Linked DNA regions of Homo sapiens: regions 2, 3 and 4 are each linked to region 1. Evidence: fine-mapped expression QTL. A gene starts in region 1. Each other region holds a variant in brackets. All regions are shown on one strand. Distances are between the middles of the regions.

The links.
Region 2: its variant is fine-mapped to the expression of MYO18A in whole blood (TOPMed, PIP above 0.99). The same link has a PIP of 0.9 or more in blood mononuclear cells and non-classical monocytes.
Region 3: its variant is fine-mapped to the expression of MYO18A in whole blood (TOPMed, PIP above 0.99). The same link has a PIP of 0.9 or more in esophagus mucosa, sun-exposed skin, tibial nerve and unexposed skin.
Region 4: its variant is fine-mapped to the expression of MYO18A in whole blood (TOPMed, PIP above 0.99). The same link has a PIP of 0.9 or more in blood mononuclear cells.

Annotation. Positions count from the first base shown.
Region 1 is chr17:29,176,380-29,183,735 of GRCh38, reverse strand. MYO18A (myosin XVIIIA) reads left to right here and starts at 3,338. Exons shown (of 42, transcript NM_078471.4): 1 at 3,338-3,423. RefSeq lists silencers at 3,259-3,479, 3,445-3,494, 3,615-3,664, 6,666-6,865.
Region 2 is chr17:29,123,352-29,130,707 of GRCh38, reverse strand. The region is part of intron 2 of MYO18A (myosin XVIIIA); the gene reads left to right. Among named protein-coding and RNA genes, the nearest start is that of MYO18A, 53 kb to the left of the region's middle. RefSeq lists an enhancer at 2,696-3,231. The variant C/T (reference allele first, on the strand shown) is at 3,981.
Region 3 is chr17:29,113,386-29,120,741 of GRCh38, reverse strand. It overlaps MYO18A (myosin XVIIIA), which reads left to right. Exons shown (of 42, transcript NM_078471.4): 7 at 1-126; 8 at 1,307-1,407; 9 at 2,302-2,365; 10 at 2,553-2,697; 11 at 4,287-4,298; 12 at 4,902-5,078; 13 at 5,301-5,391; 14 at 5,643-5,835; 15 at 6,645-6,731. Among named protein-coding and RNA genes, the nearest start is that of MYO18A, 63 kb to the left of the region's middle. RefSeq lists silencers at 3,407-3,456, 3,277-3,571. The variant G/A (reference allele first, on the strand shown) is at 2,916.
Region 4 is chr17:29,135,290-29,142,645 of GRCh38, reverse strand. The region is part of intron 2 of MYO18A (myosin XVIIIA); the gene reads left to right. LOC124903967 (a long non-coding RNA gene) reads right to left here and starts at 2,172. Exons shown (of 3, transcript XR_007065693.1): 1 at 2,120-2,172. RefSeq lists enhancers at 1,728-1,777, 1,928-2,017, 3,218-3,267, 2,960-3,943, 3,944-4,927 and a silencer at 2,478-2,527. The variant A/G (reference allele first, on the strand shown) is at 3,454.

The sequences.
Region 1 (7,356 bases):
AAGTGGCTATACCATTTTGCTACCAGCAGAGAATGGGAGTTCCTGTTGCTCTACATTCTTGCTAGCATTTGGAGTTGTTGGCATTTCGGATTTTGGCCAAAATCCAAATTTAGGTAAATAAAGTAGTTTTACCTCATGGTCATCTTAATTTGCTATTCTCTTTTATTTTTTATTTATTATTATTTTTTGAGACGGAGTCTTGCTCTGTCACCCAGGCTGGAGTGCAGTGGTGCAATCTCGGCTCACTGCACCCTCTGCCTCCTGGGTTCAAGTGAATCTCCTGCCTCAGCCTCCTGAGTAGCTGGGACTACAGGTGCATGCCACCACACCAGGCTAATTTTTGTTCTTTTAGTAGAGACAGGGTTTCACCATGTAGGCCAGGATGGTCTGGATCTCTTGACCTCCTGATCCACCTGCCTCGGCCTCCCAAAGTGCTGGGATTACAGGCGTGAGCCACTGCACCTGGCTTTAATTTGCTATTCTCTAGTGACATACAATGTTGAGTATCTTTTCTTTTGCTTACTACTATCTGTATATCTTCTTTGGTAAGGTGTCTGATCAGGTTTTTTACCCATTTCTAAATTGGGTGGTTTTCTTATTGTTGAGTTTTTAAAACTCTTTGCATATTTTGGATAACAGTCCTTTATCAGATGTCTTTTGCATATTTTTAGTAGAGACGGGGTTTCACCATGTTAGCCAGGATGGTCTCGAGCTCCTGATCTCATGACACACCTGCCTCAGCCTCCCAAAGTGCTGGGATTACAGGCGTGAGCCACCGCACCTGGCTTTAATTTGCTATTCTCTAATGATATACAGTGTTGAATATCTTTTCTTTTGCTTACTGCTATCTGTATATCTTCTTTGGTAAGGTGTCTGATCAGGTTTTTTGCCCATTTCTAAATTGGGTGGTTCATTTTCTTATTGTTGAGTTTTTAAAACTCTGCGTATTTTGGATAACAATCCTTTATCAGATGTCTTTTGCATATATTTTATCCCAGTTGTGGCTTGTCTTCTCATTCTCTTGACAGTCTTTTGCAGAGCAGACATTTTTAATTTTAATGAAGCCCAGCTTATCAGCTCTTTCTTTTATGGTGCCTTTGGTGTTGTATCTAAAGAGTCATTGTGATACTCAAGGTCATCTAGGTTTTCTCCTATGTTATCCTCTAGGAGACAGTTTTATAGTTTTGTGTTTTACATTTAGGTATATAATCTATTCTGAGTTAATTTTTGTGAAGGGTATAAAGTCTGTGTCTAGACCCCCCCCTTTTTTTTTTTTTGCATGTGGATGTCCAGTTTGTTGAAAAGCCCCATGTGTTGAAAAGACTAAGCTTATATAATTTTCAAAACAAATTTTGAGGGAGGGAGTCACTGTTATTATCCCAATTTTTTGGATGAGCAAAGTGAAGCACAGAGAGGTGATTTATAAAAAATCACCCAGAGTAACACAGCTAGTACTTTACAGAACTGAGATTTTGAATCCAGGCAATCCAGCTCCAGAGTCCATGCACTCAACCCCTATCTATAATAATAATGTCTCCCTCATAGGTTCATTGTGAGGAGTAGAGATAGTGTCTAGTATATAATAGGTACTCAGGAAACACTAATGATAGTCGTTGTCCTACTTAGCCTGCAAGGTTCCGCTCAAATGTCATGTTTTTGGGGTTTTTTTTTTTTCTTTTTTGGAGACAGAGTCTTGCTCTGTCGCCCAGGCTGAAGTACAGTGGTGTAATCTCCGCTCACTGCAACCTCTGCTCCCCAGGTTCAAGAGATTCTCCTGCCTCAGCCTCCCAAGTAGCTGGGATTATAGACATGCACTACCACGCCTGGTTAATTTTTTGTATTTGTAGTAGTGATGGGGTTTCGCCATGTTGGCCAGGCTGGTCTTGAACGCTGGCCTCAAGTGATCTGCCCACCTCAGCCTCCCAAAGTGCTGGGATTACAGGCATAAGCCACCATGCCTGGCCTCAAATGTCATGTTTTTGAAGCTGCTCTTCTCACTCCTCAAGCCAAATAAGCCTCCCATCATAGCACCTATCTCATCATCCAAGTAATGCCAGCATGGTGAACCCTACTACTGTCACAGCTCAGGTCTACCTGTTCCCCATGTGATTTCCCTGGAGATATGCCATGTCTGATCTCCTTCTGTGTCACCCCAAGTGCCTGGGGCTGCACTTGGCACTTAGCAGGCAGTTTGTTAAATTGAATTTGAGTTGCATGTTATTCCAAAATGTGTATCCCGCCTGGGTCTATTCCTCAGGAACTCCCTAACTCTTACTCAACTCTCTGCTTTCTGAGCCTCCTTGCTCCAGCCTTCCCTGGTCTGTCAGGTTGGGCTGCCCTTGCCTGGAGAAGTTCCTGTTTGGGCTGTCTAGGGAGGTAGCAGCATTTGTCTGCTACACCCTTCTTCCTGCACCACCCCACTCAGTTTCTTCCACATTCTGGCACACCCCACTCCAGCATGGACACTGCCCAGGGAAGTGTCCCCATTTCTTTCTTTCTCCAAACTCTAGACATAGCACCTATCTTGGAGGCCTGGTATCTGGATGTCCCTTGGCCTCTCCCAGGAAGTATAAACTGTCTTCTTGGTGGGTACAGCAGCTCACTTGATATTTACAGCACACAGTGGACCCAGGGACAGACTGCATTCCAAAGAGCTTCTGAAAGTGTTAATCTTGGCATTGGTGAACTCCTTTAGGGAGTGAGTGGCACTTACAGCCATGGCTCCCGGGCCCTGGTACGCCTCTTGATCCACTCCATTTTGAGGCAGGGCTGTATCAGACCAAGCTATTGGGAGTCTGTTTTTACCTTGGGGAGTGCATTCTGGCAGTGCCATCTCGGACATGGCAGGCAGTACCTGGTCTGGACTGAGCCTGGGGCACCATCCAGCAGGGCCCTGTGTGTGCCTCTGCAGAGCCACCTTGGGAGGAGGCGGCCAGTAAGACTTAATTGCTTCCTTTAGACAGCACTACCTTGAACACAGCCTGCAGAGTTCGGTGCCTGCCTTGGACAGCCCCTCTTCTATACGTTCATCATGACCCTGGTGCCTGTCCTAGGCAGTGCCACTCAGCCCCTTTCGGACCCTTTTCGGACAGCCTCCAGTGCCCAGTGCAGACAGAAACTCCAGGCAGGGCCTCTCTCAGACACAGCGAGAGGGGCTTCGGAGTCCACAGCGGACGGAGGCTGCCAGGGCAGCGCCCGGCCCGCCTGGCCCACGTCTGGCGGCGCGCACTGGCGCTGCCAGGCAGGCCGGGCGTTTATCCCCACAGCCGCCAGCAGGGAGCTCCCTTTCGGCTCGGCCTGCGCGGTCGCTGGGGGCGGCGCTGAGCTGCGCCGCGCTGCGCTCTGCTCCATCCCTGACCGGGCCGAGGCTGCTGGATGCCGCGTCTCCGCTTCTGCTGCCTGCCGGGCGGGCTCCGGTGGCCGGTGAGTGCCGGTCGGCGGCGGCGGCCGCTCGGTGGCGGGCCCGGCTTGGTGGGGCGGCGGGGCGGGCTCCGGCCGGGAGGGAGGGCGGGCGGGCGGCGGGGCCCGCCGGCTCCTCCTCCTCCTCCCCCGTCCCCTGGAAGCAGCGGCCCGGACTCCCGGCTCCCGTCCCTGGCGGCGCCGTGGAGCTCGACGCCCGGGGGTGGGGGCCGATCGGGAGCGGCGGGGAAGGGGGAACCACCGGCCCTTCCAGCCAACCTGGGGGGCGCAGGGAGGCAGGACAGGGTGGCCTTCAGTGTGGGGGGATTTGGGGCTTGGAGGCGCCCAGGTGGCCCGGAGCTGCGGGGTGGGGGCTGCAGCCTCGAGGGTGGGGGGACTTCTCCTGCCCCCGTCCAGGCCCCACGATGGAGCGAGCGAGAGAGCGGGGCGCTGAGGAAGGCAGCGGGGAAGGGGAGCACCTCTACCGACCCTTTTATCCCTCCCAGCGGCCTTCACTCTTTCACTGCCGGGCAGACTGCGGGCTCCTCTCAAAGGAGCAGCTGCTAGACAGCTGGCAAAACAATGGAGACCCCGCTTCCCTGGGCCCCCTCCTCTTGGGACAGAAGATGAGAGGGTGAATGGTGGCAGGCTTTGGGGATTAGGGAGTGCAGGCTGTGCCCTGAGACTGAATGCTCACCTCACCTTTCCCTGCAGAGGGGTGGGGTGCGTGTGGGAAGGTCGGACAAGCTGCCCCAGGCCTCTGGAGAGACCGCCCCGACGCCCCGCCCTGCTAACCTGTCATGCCAGTTGTTTCGCCAATGGGAAGGGGAGGTGGTAGGGGTGGCTGCCCCCTCACCCTGCCCCTTGTTAGTGGGGGTGCGCTCCTTGGTCCCAAACCCGGCCAGGAGTGTGGGTCATGTTCCTGGGTGCGATAAGGCCCGCAGGGACAGGCCAGGCATTGGGGCTTTGTTTTGGGGGTGGAGATGGGGGAGTTGCCCTACTGCAAGGCACATGTGTCTTGCTGATTAGTTGGAAAGGTTGCGGCCAGAATGAGCTAGAGGTGGGGGGTGGGGGAGATGGGGAGGAAGACAGCCAGTTTGTTTTTGAGCGGGTATTCATTTTGCCTGACCACTTTGCCAATGGGGCATGTGTTTGGCGCTGGCCTCATAGTTTGTATTTGTGTGGGGAGGGCTGGGGGAATGCTTCCTGAGAGGGACTGTCCTGGCTAGGGCTTTCATTCCCTCAGATGGCCACCCCGAATTAAAGAATTGGATTCCCTCCCTGCTTCACCCTGCCAATGACTTGGGCTAGTTAGTGTGGGTTCGTCTTGTCTTTTGGAGCCCCTGGCGTGTCTGTGGCCGAGAAGGCCTCATCAGTGCCCCTGTGGCAAGTGAGCTCTGGGAAGTGTGTATGCACTGGGGTGTGCTGGAAGGGAGGGGAGGCCACCTGGGTGATTAAGAGCAAGATCACCTGAGCAGGACGGTGAGTACAGAGCCCATTGAATCAGCCGCCTTTCCCTTGTGCTTTGGAGCCCTTTTCTTGAGCAGGTTGGTGCCCTGTTGTTGTGGCAACAGGCCTGGCCTAATGTTCCCCACCCTTTTTAGTTCAGGGGCTACTTTCTATCTGGAGATATTGAAAGTTGCTCTCCTGAGGTCTCTGGCTTCCTGACAAGCCTCACTGGCTCTTTGTCCATGGCTTCCCACCTCCTCAGCTTCCTCTCTGTTTTTTTGTGATGAAGTCTTTCCAGGAAACATCCTCCTGGTTTCTGGATTTGACATGACGGGTTATATATAGCCTCGGGTGGAGGTGTGCTTGTCCATTTTGGGTTGAGGACATGGGGGTTGTGGCCTCAATTCCAGGAAAACCATGGCTTTGGGGGCAGCTATTGTGTTGAGGGATTAGGGGAATGAGAAGGGTTGTAGGTGGGGGTGGAGGGTGGGCATGGGAGGGGCCACAGGCTGGCGGTCACTTCCTTTGGGAGCTTTGAACTTTGAACAGTTGATGACCTGGTGCCTGGTAGCTCTGAGTGTCTAGTTTGTTTACTCTCTCCTGGCCTGGCCCAGGTGCCAGAGTGTGTGCCTGAGGGCTTCCTCCTGCGCCCCAGACTTTCCTCATGTGGGTTATGCCCTTCCTGACTCCCACCTGGTCTCTCAGCCTCACTCCTGGGCTGTCTGGGTAGCCAGCCAGTTCCCTGGAGGCCCCCTCACTGGCCCTGGTAGTGGCTATTCATTGAGGACTGCATGTGTCTTCAGAAACTGGGCCTGAAAACTCTGGGTCCCCCAGAGGCAGGTACCTAAAGGTGGACTGGGTGGGGCAGAACTGGGGCTCATGTGAAAGGGAGAATCCACCCTGCTGAGGTGGAGCTGGGAGTTGTTGGAACTCAGGAAGCCTTCATCTGGACTTGCTGTGTCACAGGTCTTCAGGGCAGCAGGGCTGTTCTTAATCCTTCAAACCAGAGGTCTCTCCTCAGCCAGATCCTCTCACCTGGGGTGGACGCCACAGGCAGGAGCCAGAGCATCCACGTGAGCTGGGTTTTGTTGGTGGCCTGGGGTCCCAGGCCTGAGTGTGGTGGGAAAACTGAGGGGCTCTGGCTGGTTGTAGTTTAAAGGTTTGGGGCAGTAGGAGGGCCCAGCCCACTGTCTGCTGTAATTGACAGGTTCCCACAGGACTTGGGATTGGTAGGGCAGCTTGATGGAGTTTAAGTTCTGCTTTGGGTCAGACCCCCGGGTGCTTTAAGATCTGCACACCCCACCCCATCACCATTTCTTCCCCCTAGCATTTTCCAAGGTGGCCTGAATTAGAGGAGTTGGGGAGGTGCCGAGGTAGGAGCTGGATTGGGAGGGGTGGTGAGCAGACCTGGTGAGCCTCCACTTCCCACCTTCACTTCCCTGCCCTTCTTTTGAGGTAGGAATTGCAGGGCTTGTAAAATGTCAATTTCCCTTGACATTTTAAACAGTTTAGAGTCAGGCAGCAGTTTTGGTTGTTAGACTGATGATTTTACAGGACCCAGGGCCCTTTCTGTCTGCCAAGTAGTTTATCATCACTTACAAGAGATTATTGTGATTATTCTCTAATATTCAGAGAGGTTGGATGATGGGCTGAAGGTCACACAGCAAGTCAGAGGCAGAGCGGGATTACAACCTGCAGTGTGTGGTTGAGCAGAATAGCTCTCCAGCAGAGGCTGAGGGCCAAATCTGAGCTGTCAGGCCCTTGAAGATAACTGTAGCTGAAATAGTGGAGGCTTAGAGAGGGGAGGGGACTTGCTCAAGGTCACACGGAAGGGGATGTTAGCGGAACTGAGCGCCAGGCGGTGCACCTGGAAGAGCAGCAGGGAACCTGGCGAGGCCGCAGGAGCTCTCCCGCTCGCGTTCCTCCATGGCCCGCGGGATTGCTGCCTTCCGGGGGAGATGGGATCGCAGCGGGAGGCGCCGCGGGGCTGCGGCTGCGCCGGCCCAGCCGCGGGGAAACGCCAAGGGCCGCCCGGCTCCCCGCGCGGCGGCGTGAGGGCTGGCTAATGTCACGTGAGAAGCGTGCAGTCGGCGTGAGGGAGCACACCTGGAGCCAGATAAGCTCCGTGTGACCTGGCAGGGAGTCACCCGGCGCTGCGGAGCTCAGCACAGCCGGCCGGGAGGAGGCTCCCCCTGGAGCACGGGGCCAGGCCAGGTGCTGGCTACCCCTCCGGCCGCTGCTACAACCCTTGGCGAGGGGCAGAGCGCGGGGAGAGAGCCGGGGTCCCGGGGCTGGAGGAAACGGCCGCTCAGGGAGGTCAGAGGCCAAGGGAGAGAGGCCGGCTCTCTCGGGAAAGTATTTCCTTTGTATTTATTTATGAGTGTGGTCTGGGGGTGGGGGTGGGAGGACTGACCTAAGTATCTATCCACCACAGCCAACTCTGGGCACCCTTGTCTTGGGACTCTAACGTTATAGTTTCCATTTCCTGGGTTTTTTTTTTCTTTTGCC
Region 2 (7,356 bases), 53 kb after region 1:
CAGGAGTGCCCAGGGCTCTGGGGCAGAGCTGGATCACAACACATATTCTTACTTCATTACCCCAGATGGTGCCTGTCCTGGCTCCCTGCACTTCCTTGGTCAGTTTGATTAGCCAGGCACTGTGGCTTCCACCTGATCTGCAAACAATCCTGGAAAGCCAGCCTGTGATTTGAAAGGGTTGTGTGTGTGTGTGTGTGTGTGTGTGTGTGTGTGTGTGTGTGTGTGTGTGTGTGGGAGAGGCCTCAGAGTTGCCCAGAATTTATTTTATTTTATTTTTTTTGCAAAAACTACATGTAAAGTGCTTGGAAGAGTGCCATGGCCCATAGTGAGTACTGTGTAAGTCTTACCAATTACTATCATCATCATTGTCATCATTTTCTTTTCTTTTTTTTTTTTTTTTTTTTTTTTGAGACAGGGTTTTACTCTGTCACCCAGGCTGGAATGCAGTGGTGCCATCTCAGCTCATTGCAACCTCTGCCTCCCAGGCTCAAGCCATCCTCCCACCTCAGCCTCCTGAGTAGCGTAGCTGGGACTATAGGCACACACCATCAAGCCTGGCTACTTTTTGTATTTTTTGTAGAAACAGTTTCACCATGTTGCCCAGGCTGGTGTTGAACTCCTGAGTTCAAGCAGTCTCCCTGCCTTGGCCTCGCAAAGTGCTAGGATTACAGGCGTGAGCCACCACACCTGGCCCATCGTCATCATCTTAATGATGGAAGGGGGATGGGAGGAAAGCCAGAAGAGGGAGGGGAGGAGTGTAGGATCCAGTGGCTAGGGCCACTGGCCAACTCTGCAGTGCCCTGGCATGCCATTGAGCACTCTTGGCCTAAGAGGTTGAGGAAGAGGCACCTTCAAGCCCTTACTCTCTCTATCCCTTCAGCGGAGCCAACCTGTAACCAGGGCCTAGATTAAGGCCCTTGGCTCAGCTCTGCTCAAAAGGTGGAGCAACTTCTCCTTGTGGCATCCAGAGGCAGCAGCTCCCAGGTGCGCCTACTGTGAGCGTCTTCCTGCATCCAAGCAAGCATGGGCAGGTGGGCCTTCACGGAGCCCAGTGCCCATATGTGTTCTAGAACCAAGATCATTGTTTTGGGTAACAAGGACTCAAGCACAGCTCAGCTGGTGACAGAGCTCTGCTTGGCCAACAAGGAGAACCCAGGTTGCCCTTACGCTCCCCAGGCAATGGAGCTGGCTTTATGGGAAACTCTATCCTGCCGTTAGCCAGCCTGGCCTTCCAGTGGCAGTCCCTTGGGACCCAGACAGTTAGCACCAGTGTGTGGGGGAAGGGTGGGCACACCAGCTAGAGTATACCAGTCCACTCCAGGGAAGATTGGAGCTGAGGCTGCTTGAGGGCTATACACACTCTGGGAACTAGGGGGTCTCCAAACCCTTGAGAGGTTTGCAGGAGGAAAACTGCAAGGAGACTGGCAGAAAGCAGGCTGAAGTGGAAGCTTCCTGGCCCGTGCTGGGCTCCTCAGTGCTTGAGAACATAGATGAAGGGCAGACAGTGGCCGCAGACGAGGGACGCTGTGAGGAGGAGGCCTGGCATGTCTTGGGGCCAGGAAGAGCTCCCTGATCATTTTTTCCTTCAGGATGGGTAGGCTCTTGGTCTGACTGCCCGGAAAACAGGTGATGGAAGGACCAAGGACTACAAAGGTCAGGACGCCCTGGAGTTAGGCCTGGGATTGGTGGTAGGAATGGAGGTGGGACTCGGCTGTTTGACCTCTCCATGCTCCATCTCTGCTGTGTCCATGCTCCATCTCTGCTGTGTCTGGGCTGCGAGGCAGTGGGCTCACCTAGAATGGGACTTGGTTGCTGCCCTGACACAAAGCCAGTAACCCCAGAGCACCTCATAGGCCTCTCGGCGCTCTGTGCCGGCATCTCACAGGTCCATGCTAAGTCTGGGGATAGACAGCAGGTGACAGTAGTACCTGATTGTGCTGATTGTGCTTTGTGGGAAAGAAGCCAGACTCTTAGCTGCAGTTGTCCTATTTGTAAGATGGAAAGTGGGCTTCCTGGGGTAGCCTCGTGGAGCCATGTGTTGCTTGGTAGATGAATGGGAGATCTGTTCCAGGGCGTGAGGTCACACCTTCTTATTCCCTCTGCATGGGATGGGCAGGGCTGCAGGGGTGATGCTAATGTCTACCTGTATTTGTATGACTGTAGCTAGAGGGCAGCTCAAAGGAAGGCAGTGGCCCATCTAGGAGTCCTCAGCCTCCCACCAGCCCGATACCCCCAGAGACTTCCCAGAGAGCCAGGAGCCCTGCACCCACACTCGCCATGAACGGCCCGGGAGCTGCCACAGCAGAAGGCCTAAGCGAAGAGGCCCAGGGCCTGTCCCGGAAGCGGGTGGCAAATGCAGTGAGGAAGGTGGTGAGTAAGGTGCTGCCCAGCGAGGAGCTTGGGAATGCCAAGGAGACCCCAGGCAGAGGAGTCAAGTCCCCCGAGCACCCGACTCGAAGCAAGAGGGGAGAAAAGGCAGCTTCTAGTCCCAAGCCGCCACCCCCTCCCCCACCTCCCCCTGCTCCGCCTAAGCCTGAAGTGAAGAAGGAGGCAGCCAAGGATGAGCTCTCCCTGGGCCTGCGGAGCCTGATGTCTCGGGGCAGGGGCAAGGAGCACAAGGCCCGCGGCAAGCAGTCTTCTGGGAAGGGGGAGAAGCCCTCCAGCCAGGAGCCAGGCTCCCCAGACTGGGCAGACTCCCCTGAGAAAGCAGGATCCCCAGCCAAGCCTGAAGCCCCAAAGAAGCAGCGCTCCCCAGCCCCACCGGAAGAGCTGGTGACCCCAGGCTCCACCGGCCCGAAGTCAGACCTCACTGGAGAGCAGCAGTCCAAGTCACCAGTCCCTGGTGTGAAGCAGGAGGTACAAGAGTGTGTCACTAACCGCTCCTGCCCCTCACCACCCTAGCTCAAGGGCCAGGCACCCTCACAGCCGGCTTCCCCAAGCGACCTCAGCGAACCCCGCATGACCGAGAGGCTGGGCCCAGGGTCGTGTGCTGATGGCCGGCAGGGGCTGCATGGCTTTCCCTAACCCAATGCGGACCCTGCAGTTGCCTGGGCTCTGGCCTGGCGGCTGGGATGGAAACTGCTAAGCAGCATGTTGGCCTTGCCATAGGGAGTCAGGGCCTGGTCCCCAGCTACATGGCGCCAGCTTGAGGCCTGAGACCCAAACCCGAGGATCAGAGTCTCAGCAGATCAGTTCCAGGAGGAAAGACTGTTTTCTCAAGTCAGGGATCTGGGCTTGCATTCCCAGCCACTCATCCCCTGGGACCTCAGCAAAGTCCCATCTCAGACTTCCTCTGTTGAGTGGGGATAATACAGGTCCAAAATTTCTTCTCTGATACCCTGGGTGTGGCAGTATTTTGGAAATTAGTAATCTTTGTATTTTAGTGCCATACAGTATACATAATGAGCAACAACGTGTAACAAACATTAATATTTCCAAAGCAAAATCTATGAATATTCACACTACAGGGGCATAGAGGATAAACTGCCAGGTTTTGCCGCCAAAATAGTTAAGAAAAATATTTTGTTTGGGGGGGCTTTTGGGATTTTGGAATTGCAAATAAGGGTTAATAAGGGTTTTAAGTAACCAGAAGATTAGAAATGATACAGATAATGCTCCAAGCCGGTCCCTGGCATGGTGGGTGCTCCATAAATGGTAGCGTTGATAGTGGTGCTAATAACAGTTGTTATTGATGCCCTCACTGCCATCACTGCCTTCTTTAGGCCTGGCCAGCATGACCATCTGGCAGCAGGACTCTTGAGGAGCCCTGTGCTTGGATGGCAGATGGGTACAGTGGGCCCCTTGGGATATAGGGGCAACCCTATCTTCCCAGAAAGTGTTCTCTGGGTGGGGCAGGAGGCTGAGAAGCAGGAGGGAGGGTCAGTCCAGCCTCTTTCCCTTGGAAAGTGTTGCCTTCTTGGCTGGCCTCTGAGTTGGGGACAGTTCTCTTCAAGCTTCCCTTTTTTGGACCCTGCTGAGGC[C/T]TCCCAGGGTGTGGGAGAGGAGCATCAAGTTTTGCCACTACTTCCCTGTGCTCATGCAGGCTCCTTCTGGCTGGAAGGAGAGGGGTCTGGAGGGTATGGGGGAATAGCCTGAGAGGCCTTGAGGCCCTCCCTGACTGTTACCTCCTGGGACCTGGGGAGCCTTGTTGCTCCCCATTCTTCCTGGGCATTGCAGCACTTAGAGAAAAGCCAGCCGCCGCTTCCCCCACCCACCTGGCCCACTCTGTGAATCAGGGAAGTGCCTGTTCCTGCTCACAGGGAGGAGCTGGCATGGGCATTTTGGGCAGGGTATGGGCAGAACTGTTGGTCGCTCTGGAGAACCCATAAGCAGGTGGGGAGTGTCGTGGTCCTGTTCCCGGGCGGCTGCCCTCCCCTCCCTCCTCCCCGTCCCTCCTCCCCGTCCCTCCTCCTCTCACAAGGGAGGAGATGGGAGCTGAGACATGCCCTGACCTGGAGTTTAGCCACCTGTCACCTGGGCCTGGGGAAGGGTCCAGAGGGCAAGTGGGATAATAGGGCCATTTGGTGCTCAAGATAGGCAGGTGGGAAGAAATAACCCCAGAACTCCCAGGCACTTGTTCTTTTTTTTCTAATCTGATGGTTTAAAAACTCAGATTGCCGCGCGGCTTGCTCCCTGGCGCTGCTCCCCTTCCCTAGTGGGTCCCAGTGGCTTCCTGGGCTGGGAGCTCCGCATGCTGTGGCCTCTCCATTTCTGGGCTGGGACTAATAGTGGTTTAACCTTTAGGCAGGAGCTGCCAAGGTCCAGCTGACCCCCGTGGAAGAGGCCCACCAGCGGCTGGAGAGGATCTTCACAGCTTCTGTAATGCCACTCTTGTGTGTGGGTCCCAGTCCCTGGCCGCCCTCTTCCTGAGGCTGGCGGCAGGACCCTGTGTGTGTCTGTAGGCGCGCTGACCATGAAGATGGCTCCATGGCGGCCTGTGGGCCCTCATGTTGGGCTCTCTCTTAAAGAAATGAGAGAAGTGCTCTGGGGAGAGTGGTTCCTCCAGAGAGCCCAAAGTCCTGTGCATGTGGGAGGGCACCCCTCCTCGCTCAGGGCCCAGTCCCTTTCTCTGGCCACATTGTCCTGCCTCGAGGACATGTGTTGGTGTCAGGGCCTGGCGGGTGGTAAGGAAGGTTGCTGTCGCTATTTTTGGTGACCTGGCTCTCTAGACCCAGGTGGGGCCTGATAACTCCTTGCCGATTTCTAACAGGTAACATCCAAGTCCTGGTTGACTTGCCTTCCTCCCCAGAAAGGCTTTTCAGGGCTTTAAGTAACCAGAGAGGTCACGGCTGGCCACAGGGTTTGCCCACAGTGCCTTTGCTCTTGGGCAGCTGTCAAGTGGTCCCCAGGTTGGATCTAGATGGGGTCGGTGTGCCTGGCTGGCAGAGGTGGGAGTGCTATAGGGTACGTCGGGGTTGAGGAAGAGATTCTAGACTGCAAGCTGCTGGGAGCTGTGTTCTATGAGAGGTGCAGGGCGACAGCTCTGAACACAGCCCTTGGCCTAGGGAGTGGCACCCTTGGGCTGTGTTAGAAGGCAAGGAACAGCTCTGTGCTGGTGGCCACAGGGGAGCTAGGCTGAGAAATGCTCTGGAGATAAGGCAAGAGGCTGGCAGGGGGCCCAGGCCTTGGGTGTGGTGAGGTGGCCTGACCTGGTAGACACACAGAAGAGGGAGCCTGATTCAGAATAGACCGGATGGCCAGCCCAGGAGAGACTGCGGCCAGAGGCAGAGTGGCAGACTCCTGCCCGGGCCACCGGGAATGACTTAGAGGAGCATCTCCTCTGAGAGGCCTGATGGTCACTAGTGTCTCTTCACCTTCCTGGCCTCTCCTTGACTGGGTGCAGTTCACCTGCTCAGGCCAGGTCCCAGGTCCTGGCACCAAGCTCCCCCACCTTCACCCCGAGCCTTGGACAACTAGAGAGTGCCGGCCCACTTGACTCAGGAGCACTTGCTGAAGGGGGCGTGCCAGTGGTCTGCTTATCTTCACCCTTCTTCTCTCTCTCTCCTTTGCTTGCTGTCGGTAGCTGGACTCTGAGGCCGCCTCTCATGCCCACAGCCAGGTAGGGTGCTCTCCCCCCACTCAGGAGCCCTCCGCTCCCTCCAGTGACCACCTAGCCCCACTGGCCTGCACCTGGGCTGGCGTCTGTGCTCGGGCCTCCTGCTGGAGTGTAAGGCCTCTTTCCCCTCCAGGCTCCCACCCTGTGTCTGGGAGGACCCCAGCGGGAGGTAGTGCCGGGAGCTTGAGATGGTGCAGCTCTGTGTCAGGCCCCTGGGGAGCATCTAGACCGAGTGTCGCCCTTCAAGTTGGGCCCATGTGGCATGTGGTTCTCAGCCACTGGAGCCCAAGGGGGGCCTGGTTGAGTTCTAGGTGTTTCAACTCTGCTCACTCTGGAGAGAGAAAGCTGGAAAGGCAGAATCTCTGCCCTCTTCCCAGCCCATGCCTGAACGTGAGACATTCTCTGTCTCCACCTCCTGGCCAATGTGAGAAACCCATTTTCAGATGAGCTTTAAGGGAGTTAGTTACAGGCTATGATGTCACCTTATTCATCAGTCCCCAAATACCTGGCCCATAGAAGGTGTCTATTCAACATAAAGGTCTCCCCTGTCTTATGTGATTTGAGAAAAAATATATATATACAACATTGTAATGATTTTTTTTTTTTTTGAGATGGAGTCTCGCTCTGTCGCCCAGGCTGAACTGCAGTGGCGCAATCTCGGCTCACTGCAAGCTCCACCTCCTGGGTTCACGCCATTCTCCTGCCTCAGCCTCCCAAGTAGCTGGGACTACAGGTGCCCGCCACCATGCCCAGCTAATTTTTTGTATTTTTAGTGGAGACAGGGTTTCACTGTGTTAGCCAGGATGGTCTCGATCTCCTGACCTCGTGATCCACCCACCTCAGCCTCCCAAAGTGCTGTGATTACAGGTGTGAGCCACTGCACCTGGCCATGATTTTTATAGTTATAGTTCTTCAAATATAAAGAACTAGCCTTTTTAATGTCCTCACTTAACACACCAAAATGTGGCCAGCCACGTGGTGATCCTCCTATTCAGAGTTATTTCATGGGTCCATGAAACCCGGAGATCTGGGAGCCACTGGTGCAGCCCAGCCCTCCTACTCCAATCTGGGGAAGGGCCGTCCAGCACTGGAGGGATCTGTCTAAAGCCAGAAGCCAACCTGAGAGGAGAGCCCACGTCTCCTTTACTTTCAACTCCAAGAAATGTGACAAAGAACATACTTCTTATGTTTTCTTATCTTTTCCTGATTTCTCACCCAGGGGGTCAGGACCCAGCCAGTGTCCATGCCTGGGCCTCAGGTTTCAGGCTGACTGTGCCTCACAGCTGGGGCCCTCCGAGAGTGTA
Region 3 (7,356 bases), 63 kb after region 1:
CTGTACACCCTCCTGGAAGCCTTTGGGAACAGCCCCACCATCATTAATGGCAATGCCACCCGCTTCTCCCAGATCCTCTCCCTGGACTTTGACCAAGCTGGCCAGGTGGCCTCAGCCTCCATTCAGGTGAGAGTGCTGCCCAGGACTCGGGGTAGTAGGACACAGGCCACATGATTTCATGACCTAGACATCAGGCTCTCTCCCATGCCTCATTTTCCTGGGATTCTACCCTAACAAAATTGACCCAGGCATGGGCAGGGTTGGCCTGCACTATCCAGAGGCATCACCATTCTGCCCTCAGGGCCTCCTGCCCTGGATGGGGCCAGTCCAGCTTTCTGCCCAGTTCCCTTCACTCTCCCAACCCTGGGGTTGTCCTAACTCTACTGCTGGGCCTCAGCCTTACTTCCCACTTTCTGAGATTCATGCTCGGGGCTTCTCTCGGGCCGATTTCACCTAGCAGAGGACTGGCTTGTCAGTAAAGTAAGGCCCAGCCAAGGCTGATTCCCTCCCATGCTAAATACCTCACCACAAGCTCCCATTTCCAGAAGGCAGGCACCTGGGGTCTGGGCAGAGCAGCAGGGCCCCTTTGGGAGCTGGGCCTGTCTTCTTCCACCTCATTCTGGTTTCTGTCCCCCATTTGATCCTAGAGGGATCTGGTATCTGATTGAGCACCTTGGGAATAAGATGCACCTGCTTAATTGAGCCAGATGTGGTAGTGCACGCCTGTGGTCCCAGCTACTTGGGAGGCTGAAATGGGAGGGTCACTTGAACCTGGGAGGTTAAGGCTGCAGCGAGCTGTGATTGCGCCACTGCACTCCAGCCTGGGCAACAGAGCGAGACCCTATCTTAAAAAAAAAAGACTTAAAAAACAAGATGCAGGTTGGGTGCGGTGGCTCACGCCTGTAATCCCAGCACTTCGGGAGGCTGAGGTGGGTGGATCACCTGAGGTCAGGAGCTCAAGAACAGCCTGGCCAACATGGCAAAACCCCATCTCTACTAAAAACACAAAAATCAGCCGGGTATGGTGGTGCATGCCTGTAATCCCAGCTACTCAGGAGGCCAAGGCAGGAGAATTGCTTAAACCCAGGAGGCAGAAGTTGCAGTGAGCCAAGATCGCTCCACTGCACTCCAGCCTGAGTGACAGAGTGAGACTCCATCTCAAATCTTAAAAAAAAAAAAAAAAAAAAATGCAGCTGCTTGTTCCCCAGGGCCTAGAGGACCATGTGTTTGATTCCTTCTTATGTGGGGTGGGAGAAACTTGATCTGGCACTACCCTCCTTACCCACACGTCCATGCTGTGTCACAGACAATGCTTCTGGAGAAGCTGCGTGTGGCTCGGCGCCCAGCCAGTGAAGCCACATTCAACGTCTTCTACTACCTGCTGGCCTGTGGGGATGGCACCCTCAGGTGAGATGGGTCAGAGGGTACACAAGGGTTCTCTGAACTCCAGCCCACTGACTGGGCTCCTGGACCTTGATTGCATCCAGAATTAAAGCCACTTGATCGCATCCTGCACTGTTTGGTCAGTGCATGTCTGCTATGTGCTAGGCTCTGAGCTAGGCCCCAGGGACAGTGAGATGGATGAGACATAGTCCCTGCCTATCAAGAACTCCCTGGTCCTGGGTACTGGGGCCTGGCTGTATTGGAGGGGAACAGCCAGCCCTTCAGTGTTGCCAGGGCCTAGCTAGGATCTCCATTACCCATGAAGCCAGTTCTGGAAAGCAAAGCACACTGAGGTACCAGTGGTTGGGGACTTGCCTACTGTCGCATGACTGGTAGGGGGCTGAACTGGTATTTGAATCCACACTGGGGCCAAAAGCCCATGCCTCTTCCAGTGCCCTCCAGACTAGCCCTTCCTGCCCCACGTTGGCTGCCTCTGCCACGCTCTTCCCTTCAGACATTCAGATTTGCCGCGTGTGTTCACTAAAAAGAGATAAATGATGAGGCTGAGCCAGCATCCCCAGGCCATTGTCCTCTTTAGCCCTTCTTGTAACTGAGGGCATCGTCTCTGCCTTGGCGGGACTCACCCTTCGGGCAGGTTCCCTGCTCCCTTCCGGGGGCCAGGTTGCATCCTCTCACCAGGGCATGTCTGGTGGCTTGTCCTCAGGAGAATGGTACTCTAACCAGGCATCCAGGCCAGTTAGGAAAGCAGTGACAGCTGGCCCGCCAGTTGGGGATGATGGGATGATGGGCAGACAAAACTTGGAGTCTGGAAGCTGAGTCTGTCTGTCTCCACCCTGGGCGGAAATGGCCTTGGCATGGGGACCAAGTGCCGTGCTGATGCCTTATTTGTACCCCTAGGACAGAGCTCCACCTCAACCACTTGGCAGAGAACAATGTGTTTGGGATTGTGCCACTGGCCAAGGTGAGGGGTCTGTGGGGTCTGGGTTGCCAGCCCTGGGCCTTGGGGGTAGGAGAAGCCTCCATGGGTCCTGTGGGAATAGTGGGAGCCCAGCTCCAGCTGCTGGCTCTACCCAAGCCTTGCCCTGAGGGCCCAGCCTCATGGGGGTGTGCTGGGAGGGACAGCCCTTTGAGGTCATCTATCTCCACAGCCTGAGGAAAAGCAGAAGGCAGCTCAGCAGTTTAGTAAGCTGCAGGCGGCCATGAAGGTGCTGGGCATCTCCCCCGATGAACAGAAGGCCTGCTGGTTCATTCTGGCTGCCATCTACCACCTGGGGGCTGCGGGAGCCACCAAAGGTAACCTGCAGTGGGTCCCAGTAGGCTGGCCTGTCCCCTGGGTGACCTCACAGGGACCCTGCCCACTCCCAGTTTATTCTTGCCCAGCACAGACTTAGCCGTTCTGAGACAACCCTCTTTTGCTTGTGCCTCTTCTCAGCCCCCCACTTCAGAGCAGAAGGCCCGGGAAGCATCTTTGGCAGTGACGACCCGAGGCCTGGACTTAGCTGGCTGTGCTG[G/A]GGGGCACCATGAGGAAGCATGGAGGGCTGGGGGTTCAGAGGCTGAGGGATGAGAAGGGCACTAAGGCAGGGCAGCCCCGCTGGAATAACTCTCCTTCTTGTTCCCTTCCTGACAGAGGCCCCCGAGGAGCAAGCGGGTAACTGACCTTGGCCCCGCCCTTGGGTATAGGGGCCGCCGTGCCCTGTCTTGGTGCTTGCCCAGGACTTTCTAGGGGCTGGGCTTGTTCTGTTGCTGCAGAGAGGACTGGTCTGGGGAGAAGCCTGGAGGTTGAGAGTGGAAGTGGAGCCTGCAGGCTGTGGGGTGTCTTAGAGTCCCAGGAGTAGCTGCTTCTCCTGCCAGTTTTAGATCTGAATCCTGGAACCTCTCAGGATGCCCACCGTGGGGTGGGGTAGGGTGGGCTTGCTACCTGGGGCCTCCCCAGACCAGTTTTCCCCAGTCCTCTTCCCTTCTCCACTGGTTGGGTAGCTCCGTATCTTCCTCTTGCATGTCAGGGTGGCGGCCACTAGGGGGCAGCAGGCACCGTGGTAACGAATGGGCTGCAGCTTTGGCACTTGCGCTCGGGGACTTGGCCTGGCTTGGAGGAGCTCTGCTCCATCCTTCAAGATGACTTACGTTGGAGGATGGCGATTCGAGCACCTCTTCACCCCCTTTTTCTCCAGTTTAGGGAAAGGGGATGCTGGCGCTGAACAGCACCTTGGGCTTTGGCTTTGGCCCCTTCTGGGATGTGAAGGGCCCCAGGCTGCTCAGCTGGAGTGAGAAAGTCCTGGCAGGTGGTGGGTGTATGGAGGAATGGGTGCCCAGGCGTGAGGCTCCATGCGAGCGACCCCAAGAAGTGGCATCCCTGCCCAGGAGGAGCCAGGCTCTAGGTTAGAGAAGTTTTCTCGAGAATGTGGAGGACAGACAGGCGGGCAGGCGTGTGGCTGTGTGTTGAGGGAAGTTACTTCACTCTGAGGCGGTGACAAGCCTAGCTTTCCTCTAACCTACCCAGCCCCAACTGCAAGCGGAAAGCTCCGGGTGTCAGCACAGCGATCTTCTCAAACAATGTCTGTTAGCGCCTCAGAGCTTCCAGTGTTTTCCGGCGGGGGGGGGGGGGGGGGGGGAGGGTGTGTTTGCGCACACACACATGTGCACAAATGTCTTTGCGGGTCTCTTTCTGTGTGTGTCAGTGTGATTACACCCACAAACATACTCCCTGGAGACTGTGTGTGTGTGCGTTTGTCCCAAGTCTGACTGTGGTTGTGTTTTCTTGCCTACTCATCCTCACAACACCCCCGCCCCACGGTCCCTCCGAGGCGGCGAGCTCTATTGATGACTGTTTGCTAACACACTGTTTTTCTTTGCATGCTGCATGCTGGTCCTTTGCCTTACAGAAGCTGCTGAAGGTAAAACCTTGTTTCTTGTTAGCTTTCCCTAATTGCCGTGATTAGACACATGTTGGCTGAGGCACATATGTCTGTGCGGGCTGTTCCCTTTCCCCTGTGGCTTTTTTGCCTCCCCACTGTTGGGCCATCAGTGGGTGTTTGTGGTCTCCACTGGCAGATGCCAGGGGGCAAGAGGGAGGGTTCTAATGTACTCAGGGAATGTGGAGGCATGAGCGATCTCTCAAGATAAGTCCCCCACAGGCACACGGGGTTCTTGTGCCCATCCCAGGTGGGCTGGTTCATCCTCTGACTCCGCCCTTCCCCTAGTTGGGCATCCCCGGAGCTGAGCCATCTGAAAAGGGATTTTTGCAGCTGGTTTGTTGCCCTCCGGTGGCAGCATGTGGAGTTACCTCCTCCTTTAGGACCTGCTCATTCTCTCCATCCCCACGGGACACAGGAAATGCTGGCCACTGCTGGCTGCCCCTGTTCTGCCTGAAGCCCATCGGGTGTCATCAGGGCTGGCTTTTGCCTCCAGAAGATGCATAGTCATCAGCTGGTCATCAGGTCATCAGCTGGCCTAAGGAAAAAGACCCAGGATGCCAGATCCCTTTTTCCACTCCACAGCTGGGCGCAAGCAGTTTGCCCGCCATGAGTGGGCCCAGAAGGCTGCGTACCTACTGGGCTGCAGCCTGGAGGAGCTGTCCTCAGCCATCTTCAAGCACCAGCACAAGGGTGGCACCCTGCAGCGCTCCACCTCCTTCCGCCAGGGCCCCGAGGAGAGTGGCCTGGGAGATGGGACAGGTACCCTTTGTCCCTTGGCTGGTAGTTGTGAGTGTGAGGCCTCATCTGGGGCTTGCTGCCATCCCTGGGGCGGGAGGGGACTGCTGGAGTGAACAGATGCTCTGTCAGTGGCAGAGGCCCTGCCCCAGGCCCCGTGCTGACTGGGCCCTGGGCAGGTCAGGGGCTTACCCAGATGGGGAGCCCTGGGGAGAAGGAGATAGCGCTGCTCCCCCTGCCCCACAGGCCCGAAACTGAGTGCACTGGAGTGCCTTGAGGGCATGGCGGCCGGCCTCTACAGCGAGCTCTTCACCCTTCTCGTCTCCCTGGTGAATAGGTGAGTGCCAGGCAGGACCCAGGGCTTTTCCTGCTTTGGCAGAGGTGGAGTAGATGCCTTCATGCCTTGTTGGCCGAGGCAGAGCCGGTCTCTTCCAGCAGGGGCTCCCTGTCCCATGGGCTATGAGCAAGGCCAGCATGCCCTCCCCACCAGGGTCCTGGGCAGGGATAGAGGTCTGGCTTGGGCAGGGTGGGGCTTCCTGGTGCCCGGGGCCAACCAGCGAGGCTCTGACCCAGGCTGTCCCTATCCAGGGCTCTCAAGTCCAGCCAGCACTCACTCTGCTCCATGATGATTGTCGACACCCCGGGCTTCCAGAACCCTGAGCAGGGTGGGTCAGCCCGCGGAGCCTCCTTTGAGGAGCTGTGCCACAACTACACCCAAGACCGGCTGCAGAGGCTCTTCCACGAGCGCACCTTCGTGCAGGAGTTGGAAAGATACAAGGAGGTAGCTCTGGGGCCTGGGCCTCATCTAGCCTCAGATTCTGGCCTTGGCACCCACAGCGAGGGCATCTGTGGATGCAGAAGGCATCACCTTACTCTCCATTTCTGTCCTCCTGCGCTCTCTGGAGCAGGAGTCGTTCCTTGCCCCCTTGTCCGTGGCCTCTGGCTTTGGCTACGTTCTTACTTGGTGGAGAGTTTACTCTCCAGGAAGCCTACAGGTGCATTGAGGGCCCCCAGGAGGCTACCCTTGGCCTCTTTTGAGGCACCTCCCAGGCCTGGTGATTGCCACTGTGTGGTTCCTGCTCCAAGTGTGTCTGGGCCTGGCCTTCCCGTCTCCCTTCCCTGATCTGTGAGGGTGCCAGGTGATGATTTAGTGCCTTCTGTAAAAGGGTGTCCCGGATGGGACGAGAACTGGAAATCCTGCCTCATCTGGAAGTGAGTTGAGTGAATTGTCAGGATATTTATTTGGGGCGAGAGAGGATTCAGAAGGAAAATGGCAGTTGTCTTCAAGTGTTTCAAGGATGATTGTGTGAAATTGAGAGTGGGCTTGTTCTGTGTTGCCTAATCAACTCATGTGAGTAATGAGAATGTGACTCTGGCTTCGGATAAAAAGAGGTTCTGAGAATTTTAGCTGTGCAAAAAATACAGTGTGTTTCCTTGGGAGCTGTTTCATTTGGGATGATGGAGGGAGCTCCTGCACGGCACAGAAGGAGGTTGGCCTTGCTGATCTCAGAGCCCCTTCCCAGCCTACTCACAAGGCTGTTCCCCACAATGTGACCCCCATGCTCACTACCGCTCGGCCTTCTTTCCCAGGAGAACATCGAGCTGGCGTTTGACGACTTGGAACCCCCGACGGATGACTCTGTGGCTGCTGTGGACCAGGCCTCCCATCAGTCCCTGGTAGGAGCTCCAGAGAGGGTTTGGGCAAGCCTTTCCTCTCGTTCCCCACCCCTCTCCCCGTGGTGGAGCCCTCCCCATCTGAGCTGCTGCTGGGGGTGCCACTGTGGGCTGAGGGAGGGTCCAGCAGCTATGCCCAGACACCAACTACTCTCTGGTGCTGGGGCTCTGCCCCTCAGCACTCAGGCAGTCTTGGCCAGGAAGGTGGCACTTTCTTCTGCCCTGGTGCCCTGGGGAGCCACAGCCCATGGGGGTCCCAGTCAGGCAGGAAAGCATATCTCCTTTCTCAGCAGCTGAGGCTCGGGCCCCAGCTGGTGACTGGCTGAGCCTCCAGTATGTCTGCTAGGAGCCCTGGTGACCAGTCCCAGCTGGTGAGGGCCTAGACCCCAAGGACATAGTCATTCCCTCCCATTGTCCCCAAGTAGAGGACTGGTGCAACCTAACAGAACAGGGCCAGGAGCCAGCCTCCCGCTCCCAGGGGAAACAGTGCTAAGCTGTCAGACGCCCTCTGGGGGACTGTCATGGATATGAACCCTCACCCCTCAACTTTGGGGGCAGGCTTTGTCACCCTTTGTGCTAGTGTCCTGGGCACCTTGGCACTCGGTGGGGGACTGGCTGGCCTAGCAAA
Region 4 (7,356 bases), 41 kb after region 1:
TCACCTGGAAGCCTAGTTAAAACACAGATGCTGCACCCCATATCCAGAGTTCTTGGTTCAGCAGGTCTGGGTTGGGTTCCTGGAATTTGCATTTCCAACAAGTCCCCAGGGGATGCCCACGCTGCTGGCCTGAGAACTTGGAGAACCAAAGCCCTTTCACATACATTATGTACCAGTCTCATACTGGTTGGGTAAGAGTCAGTAAAGGTGTAATCCTCATTTTACAGATAAGGGAAATTTAAGTCACCTGCCTGTGTTCACACAGCTAAATCATTCATTCATTCACTCATTCATTTAACAAATGGACATTTCTGTGCTAGGCCTTATGCTGGCCTTAGAGTCTTGCAGTTCTCAGCCTTGGCTGCATGTGAGAATCACCTGGGGAGCTTTTATCAATAAAAAATCCCAGTGTCCAGCCAGGCGCAGTGGCTCACGCCTGTAATTCCAGCACTCTGGGAGGCCAAGGCGGGCGGATCACGAGGTCAGGAGATTGAGACCACGGTGAAACCCCGTCTCTACTAAAAATACAAAAAATTAGCCGGGCATGGTGGCAGGCGCCTGTAGTCCCAGCTACTCGGGAGGCTGAGGCAGGAGAATGGCGTGAACCCGGGAGGCGGAGCTTGCAGTGAGCCGAGATCACGCCACTGCACTCCAGCCTGGGCGACAGAGCGAGACTCCGTCTCAAAAAAAAACAAAAACAAAAAAATCCCAGTGCCCAGGCCCCTGCTCCCAGACCAATTATGTCAGAAACTGAGAGGGAAAGGGTGGGCTCCAGGCATCAGTATTTTTTTCAAGTTCCCCAGTGGATTTCAGTGAGCAGCTGAGGCTGGCACCATTGTTCTAAGTAGCCACTGAAGATGTGAAGACCTGTGACACTGCACGTGCTTCAGAAGGGCCAGATGCTTCCCCTGGGGGGACATCCCACTCCCTAGAGAGCAGGACACAAGCGCCGTGTCCTAAGAGTCTGTGTATGTGACTATATGACAGTGAGACTTGGACAGCGCATGGCAGGTAGGAGGCAGGGCTGGGTTTCCATCCTCTCTGGCAGTGCTTACCAATCTTTTCATGGAGAAAGTCAGACAATGTATAGAACCAATGGCCCTTAGAGCTGGCCAGGGGCAAGAAGCATGGGGTGTATGCCAGACTGGTTAGGAGGCGGTTCTGTATCAGGGCTTCCTAGCACCACCCCCACCCCATTTTTTTTTTTTCCTAAAGAGGAAGAGGGAGGCAATGACTGTTTCCTTTTTTCTGCAGAGCTGACGGCTTCTGAGACTTGCTCTCCCTGTCTTTTGGCCCCTTGACATTCTGTTCTCCAGCTCCCATTTCAGCGTCTCAGCGGGTCCCTAGTCCTGGTCTAGGCATCCCATGGTGCTAACTGGAGAGCCAGGCCAGGATTTCTCTTCACAAGAAACACTGGCTTTTCACAGGCAGCCATCACTCATTGGCTAGACACCCATGACTTCCTCTGTCTGCAGGGCTGAGGCCCACCCCACCCTCCTCTCTGCCTGTGCAGTCCCTGGCGTCTGTGGAGGGGAGAGGGATGTAAACAAAGAGAGTGTAATTGATTCTCTGCATGTCCCCTGTGTGCTGATGGCAGTGGGGCAGTAAGTGGGCCTGCCCGTGTGGGTCTCTGCTCCTGCCAGACCTTACAGGACTGCTTTGCGGCTGCTGTTTGGGCACAGTGTGCAGTGGGCCCCGTGTGCTGTCTTGGATGTGACGTTAGTGGCTGTCTTGGCCTCTGCCGCAGTAATTAGATGGCTAGGGTAGGCCTATGATTTGGGTGTTCTCAAGAACACTGTGTTGATTGAATGTTCGTGCATGCTGGTGTGTGTGTGTGTGTGTGTATACGTGTACATGCACATGAGTGCGCATGTGCTTGTCTCAAGCTTGGCCTGTGGGGCCGGGGGCTGCAGGTCTCAAATTCCTCTGCTATTTTTAGGAGCCATATCAGCCCAGCTGTCCCGGAGCTGGGGTGTGTGTCCATAGGCAAGTCTCACCCTCCCTGTCCTTGCCCTAACCCCCTAACACTGCCTGCCCCCCACCCCAATGGCTTTACCCTAAGAGCCTTCTCCTTCCCTTCCACACACACTGCTGTATCACCCTCTCCCTCCTGGCATACCTGATACCCGAAGTCCTCCGGGCTGCTGGCTCCAACTAGGGCTGGGCAGCTCGGGACGGGAGGGGCCGGGGAGAGGGCGGGAACTGGGCGGGGCCACAGCCTGTGCTATTTTGAGCTGCTAACGGAGCCAGAGCAGCATCAGAGCGGAGTCTCCTTGCTCTGGGCTGCTCCAGGCCAGGCCATGCGGGTGAGTGTCCCTCTGACCCCCCACCCCGGAAATGTCCCAGGCTCCTCATGCTATTTCCTCATTTAGGAAAGGAGGGACCTTTTTGTGATTTCCCCAGATGTGGCTGAAGTAGGTGGGGAGAGGGGTGGGGCAGCCTTGGGGCTCCTCTCCGAGCTTCTTGGTAAGAAGGGAGTTACTCAGCCCCGGAAGCCTCAAAACCCCTCCGTGGCTAGGAGCAGGGCATCCTGGGCCTGACTCATGACTTCAGGAGTTTTGGAGGGGCACTGTCTTCTGAACCTCAGTTTCCTGGGGTTGCATCCACCCCCAAGGCTGTGACACGCCTTCCCCACCAACCATTAGTGCTTTTTTGGCCTTCATTCCTTAGAACACTGTTTTCTTCCAAAGCCCCAGCCCCACAGCACCCAAGGTCCTCGGTAGTCTTGTCTCTGCTTTGTTGCTGGTATAGCTCTTTCCTCTCTTCCTCCTTGAGAGGGGATGGTCCTTGGAGTTGTCAGGGAGCACCCTTCTCGCTGTCCCCAAGAGTAGTCTTAGCATGGCCACCTCCATTTCTGTGCATAGGACACTTGCAAGGGGCACAGATGGCGTGTTGGGGATGCTCTGACTGGCCCTAAGTCTCTTTTTTAGTAGAGATTACTCCAGATAAGTAAGTTCCTTAAAAAAGAAAGTGAGGAGAGACATAGCTGCTCCCAGTCCTTCCCGTTCCCCTGACTCTACCCCTCCCAGCCACCAAGGGTAAGGTTTTCAGTTGTGTCAGCAGTTGGCAGAGTACGTGGGCTGGCCTGGTGCGGAGGTGCATCAGGAGCCTGAGATGTACCCGTGAGTACTTGTATCTCTCTGTGCTCAGGACTGCCCTGCCTCAGCCCCCAAACTGGCACCAGGGCTGAGTTGTGTGGGCAGTATGCCCGGGGGTGGGGGAGAGGTCAGAGAGAGCTCCTCACCCTGAGAGATGGGCGCTTCCTGGTCTAGGGTACTCTCCCCCAGCCACCCCCGGGCCACTAGCACCAGGTCACAGATTTAGGGCCATGCACAGTGATATCCAAGCAGACAGCAAAGTGCCCTCCAGAGGGGCAGTGAGCATCCCCAGGGAAGGGGGGCCTCCAGCAGGTTCAGTCGTTGGAGGAGGAAACCAAGACCCTTCTGCAACTGC[A/G]GTTGCGGCAGGAAGCCATTCCAGTGCACCTGCTTCCTCTGGGCTGGCCTGCAGTGAGGCGGGTGCCCGGCTGCTTTCTGTTCCGCCCTGGGGCTGGGGAGGGCTCTGGCTGGAGGCTGGACTGCAAGGGCCAGGTTGTCCCTGCCAAGCTCATCTCCCCCTCCCCCGCTGTCTGGCAGCATGGCCTTCAGTTCATTCCTTAGAGAGCTTCCCTTCCTCTCAAGCAGTTCCACGTAAAGCATATTCAGGTTGGTGGGTGGAGGGGCGGGTCATCATTGGGAACCCCTGCTTTCCTCCCAAGCTGCTCTTCTGGCAGCTGATGTAGAAGGACAACAGTGCAGGTGAACCAGGGGAAATGGAGGGCAGGGCGTGCCTCCATCCCTTAAAGTGAGCAGTGGAGGGCTCTCGCAGGAGACCTGAGTGTGAGTCCCAGATCTGCCACTTGCTGCTGTGAGGCTTTGGGCGAGTCACCTGACCTTCTGAGCCTCCTTTTGCTCATTTGTAAAGTAGCAGTCACACAGTCACACTAGTATCTATTTCAGAGGGATGTTGTGAGGATCAAATGAGATGATTCATGTGAGGGATTCAGCACAGCACCTGACACATACCAAATGCTCAATAATGATTAACCGTTTTTTACTATTATGCTAGTATTTCTTCCCTTCTCCTTTGTTCCTGCCACCCTTCCTCGCCCTCAATCCCTAGATAAGTTGGTGCTAGGTTGGGACTGGGAGGAAGAAGTCTCCTGGGAGCTGCCCTCTGTGCCTCTGAATGGGAAAGAGGGAGGAGAGGAGAATGCCCTGCCTCTTGGTCCTCAGAAGGAGAAGCCTCCGGTGTGTGAGTGCTGTCAGAAGCGGCGAGGCGGGAAAGTGACCTCGGCCACCAGCTACGTCTCAGCTTCCTTTGGGCACTCTCTTGAGAGTTACCTGCTGCTCTCGGGGGCTTGCAGTGTGCAGATGTCTGGTGTGGATGCTTGGGCCTCAAAGCATTTGTCCAGGCCAGGCATTCCAGGCCTGAGGGGCTGCCTGAGGCGTGGCATTATTCTCCCAGGAGCATTTGTGCCCCCATTCCCTCCTGTGAGGGGCCCAGAGAGTGCAGGTTAAGGGCGGGTAGGCTCTGCTGGCATGGTGGAGGGTAAACCCCAGCTGCTCCCAGAGTGTCAGAAGCCTCCTGGGGCTGAGGCTTGACAGTCCCTCAGTACATTTCTTGGATTTCTCCTCTTTGAGAACAAATGCTTCTAGCTATTATCTCCTTTGCTTTTTTTTTGACTATTTAGCCATCTTCACAATAAAAATAAGCAGTAAGTAACAAATACATACCAAAATAAATACCAGGTGTTCATGTTGTGTCTAATTCACACAGTTTACAAGATTATTATGATCACTGTTTGTATACTATTTGGGTTCCAGTTTTTTTGATTGATGTCATTTTATATGGAGCTTTCCATATGGTTACATTGTCCACACATTTGTCAGTTTAAATGGCAATACAACAACGGGTTGTACCTAACCATTTCTTAATTCTAGGCATTTGGGCTCTTTCCAATTTGGAGCTGTTATATAGAGTGCATCTATAAAAATCTTTGCGTTTTTTTTCTTTTTCTTTCTTTAAGTCAGCTCACTGGACATACATTCCTGAAGATGGAATGGGTAGGCCAGAGGATGATGCATTTTGTGGCTATTGTTCACGAAGAGCTACTAAGCAATTTCAGTGTCCTTGCCCTCCCTGCAAACCCAGGCATTGAGTTCACTATGTATTTATTGTGAGCAGGTTTAGAGATTATACCTCCCTTGTTTGTACCATGTCCCTGGGAATCAGAATGGGCAAGTGTTGTTCTCTGTAGTTTATATTTGGGGAAGAGATTAGATGGGAATAAGAGGTTTGTGCAAAGAACCCCTGTCCCAGCACTCTCGTGCAGCTAACATTTATTAAGCGCCTACAGTATGATGAGTAAGATGGGTAAGTTCTGCTCAGAGGTGAATCACAGTCCAGGGATGACAAAGACGCACAAACAGCTCCCCAAGATACATTCTGGTTGTGGCTCCCAGCTCTGCCACTTAATAGTTGCAGCGCTCTCGGCAATTCACCTTCTTTATTTCCTTATCTAGAAAGTGTGTTGTTATGAGGATTCAATGAGGAGACCTGTATGAAGTGCCTTCCCCTGTGCCTGGCTCATAGTAAGTGTTCAGTGAGTTTTGGTCTCTCTTGCTGTCCCTCAGAAGTGCCACAGAGGGAGGAGGTGGGTAGACCTGCAGAGTGGCAGAATCATGGTGGGGTCTCCCTTTTTGCACATCCAAAAACTCGATTTGGAGAGTTGCACACTAGTAAAACACACTATCAATCCATGCTTTGGCTTGACCAGATCTTCTGAACCTTCACGCCGATGAAGTTTATCAACCAGATTTGGCTACCAAAGCTGATGCCTGCCTAACATACCAGAAAAGGTGGGCACTGAGGAAGCAGCACAGGCTTTGGAGGCAGACCAGTGTGGGTTCAAGTCTGGGTTCCCCCACTTAACTAACTTTGTGACTTAATCTCTTTCTGAATCTTTTCCCTCCTCGATAAAATGGGAATAATAATAATTCCCATATCACCAATCCTCAGATTGTTGTAAGATTTACATTAGAAAATAAATGTTCAATATCTTGTATAGGGCCCATCTCATTGTAGGTGCTCCATATTCAGTAATGTTGCTGGAAATGGCTGAAATCTCTAGAGAGAGAACAAGTCAAGGAAGAGAGGCCTTAGATCTAAACACCCTTGCTCCAGAGAGCCATATGTTCCCAACACATATGCTGCCACCACCTTTGGGGCCTGAGTTCCTTACCCATTCTGTCTTGGATAACAGTAACTTGATCTTTTTTTTTTTTAATTTTTGTGGGTACATGGTAGGTTTATGTACTTATGGGATACATTACATATATATATATATATATATATATTTTTTTTTTTTTTTTCTTTTGAGATGGGGTCTCACTCGGTCACCCAGGCTGGAGCATGCAGTATTGCGATCTCTGCTCACTACAACCTCTGCCTCCCAGGCTCAAGCGATCCTCCCACCTCAGCCTCCCCAGTACCTGGGACCACAGGCATGCACCATCGTTCCCAGTTAATTTTTTGTGTTTTTGGTAGAGACAAGGATTCATCGTGTTGCCCAGGCTGGTCTCAAACTCCTGAGCTCAAGTAATCCACCCACCTCAGCCTCCCAAAGTTCTGGGATTACAGGCGTGAGCCACCACGCCCGGTCCATGAGATGTTTTGTTTTGATATGGGCATGCATTGAGAAACAAGCATGTGCTTGGGCAATGGACAATGGGGTCTCTACCCCCTCAAGCATTTATCCTTTGGGTTATAAACAATCCAGTTCCAGGATAACTTGCTCTTGATCCTAAACAAATTCAGTGATAAGGGAGAGAGGAAAACTGTCTAGGCAATTCTGCATAAAAGCCACAGAGAGAATTTCCTCTGGGGAGAGCCCCACATCTGTGTTCAGAGTGAAGCTCATAGGAACAGCTGATGCAGAGGAACAGGCCTGGGTGGAAATGGCCCGGTGTCCTCACAGCCTGGGCCAGATGGGACCTCTATAGACAAGTAGGAAAACTTGAACAAGAGATCAAAGATCAAACGAGTTAAAATTACACCAACAGACAAACTTAAAGTCTCTAGCACATTAACTGAATAATAAAACAGAAGTCAACAAAGCAAAATAGAAATAATTAATTGAAAACAAAACATTTCCTAATTTTTAACTATTATTCATGATAAGCAGTTTTAAGAATGAACCAGTTCTTGGCCGGGCGCGGTGGCTCACCTCTGTAATCCCAGCACTTTGGGAGGCCAAGGCGGGTGGATCACGAGGTCAGGAGATGAAGACCATCCTGGCTCACACGGTGAAACCCTGCC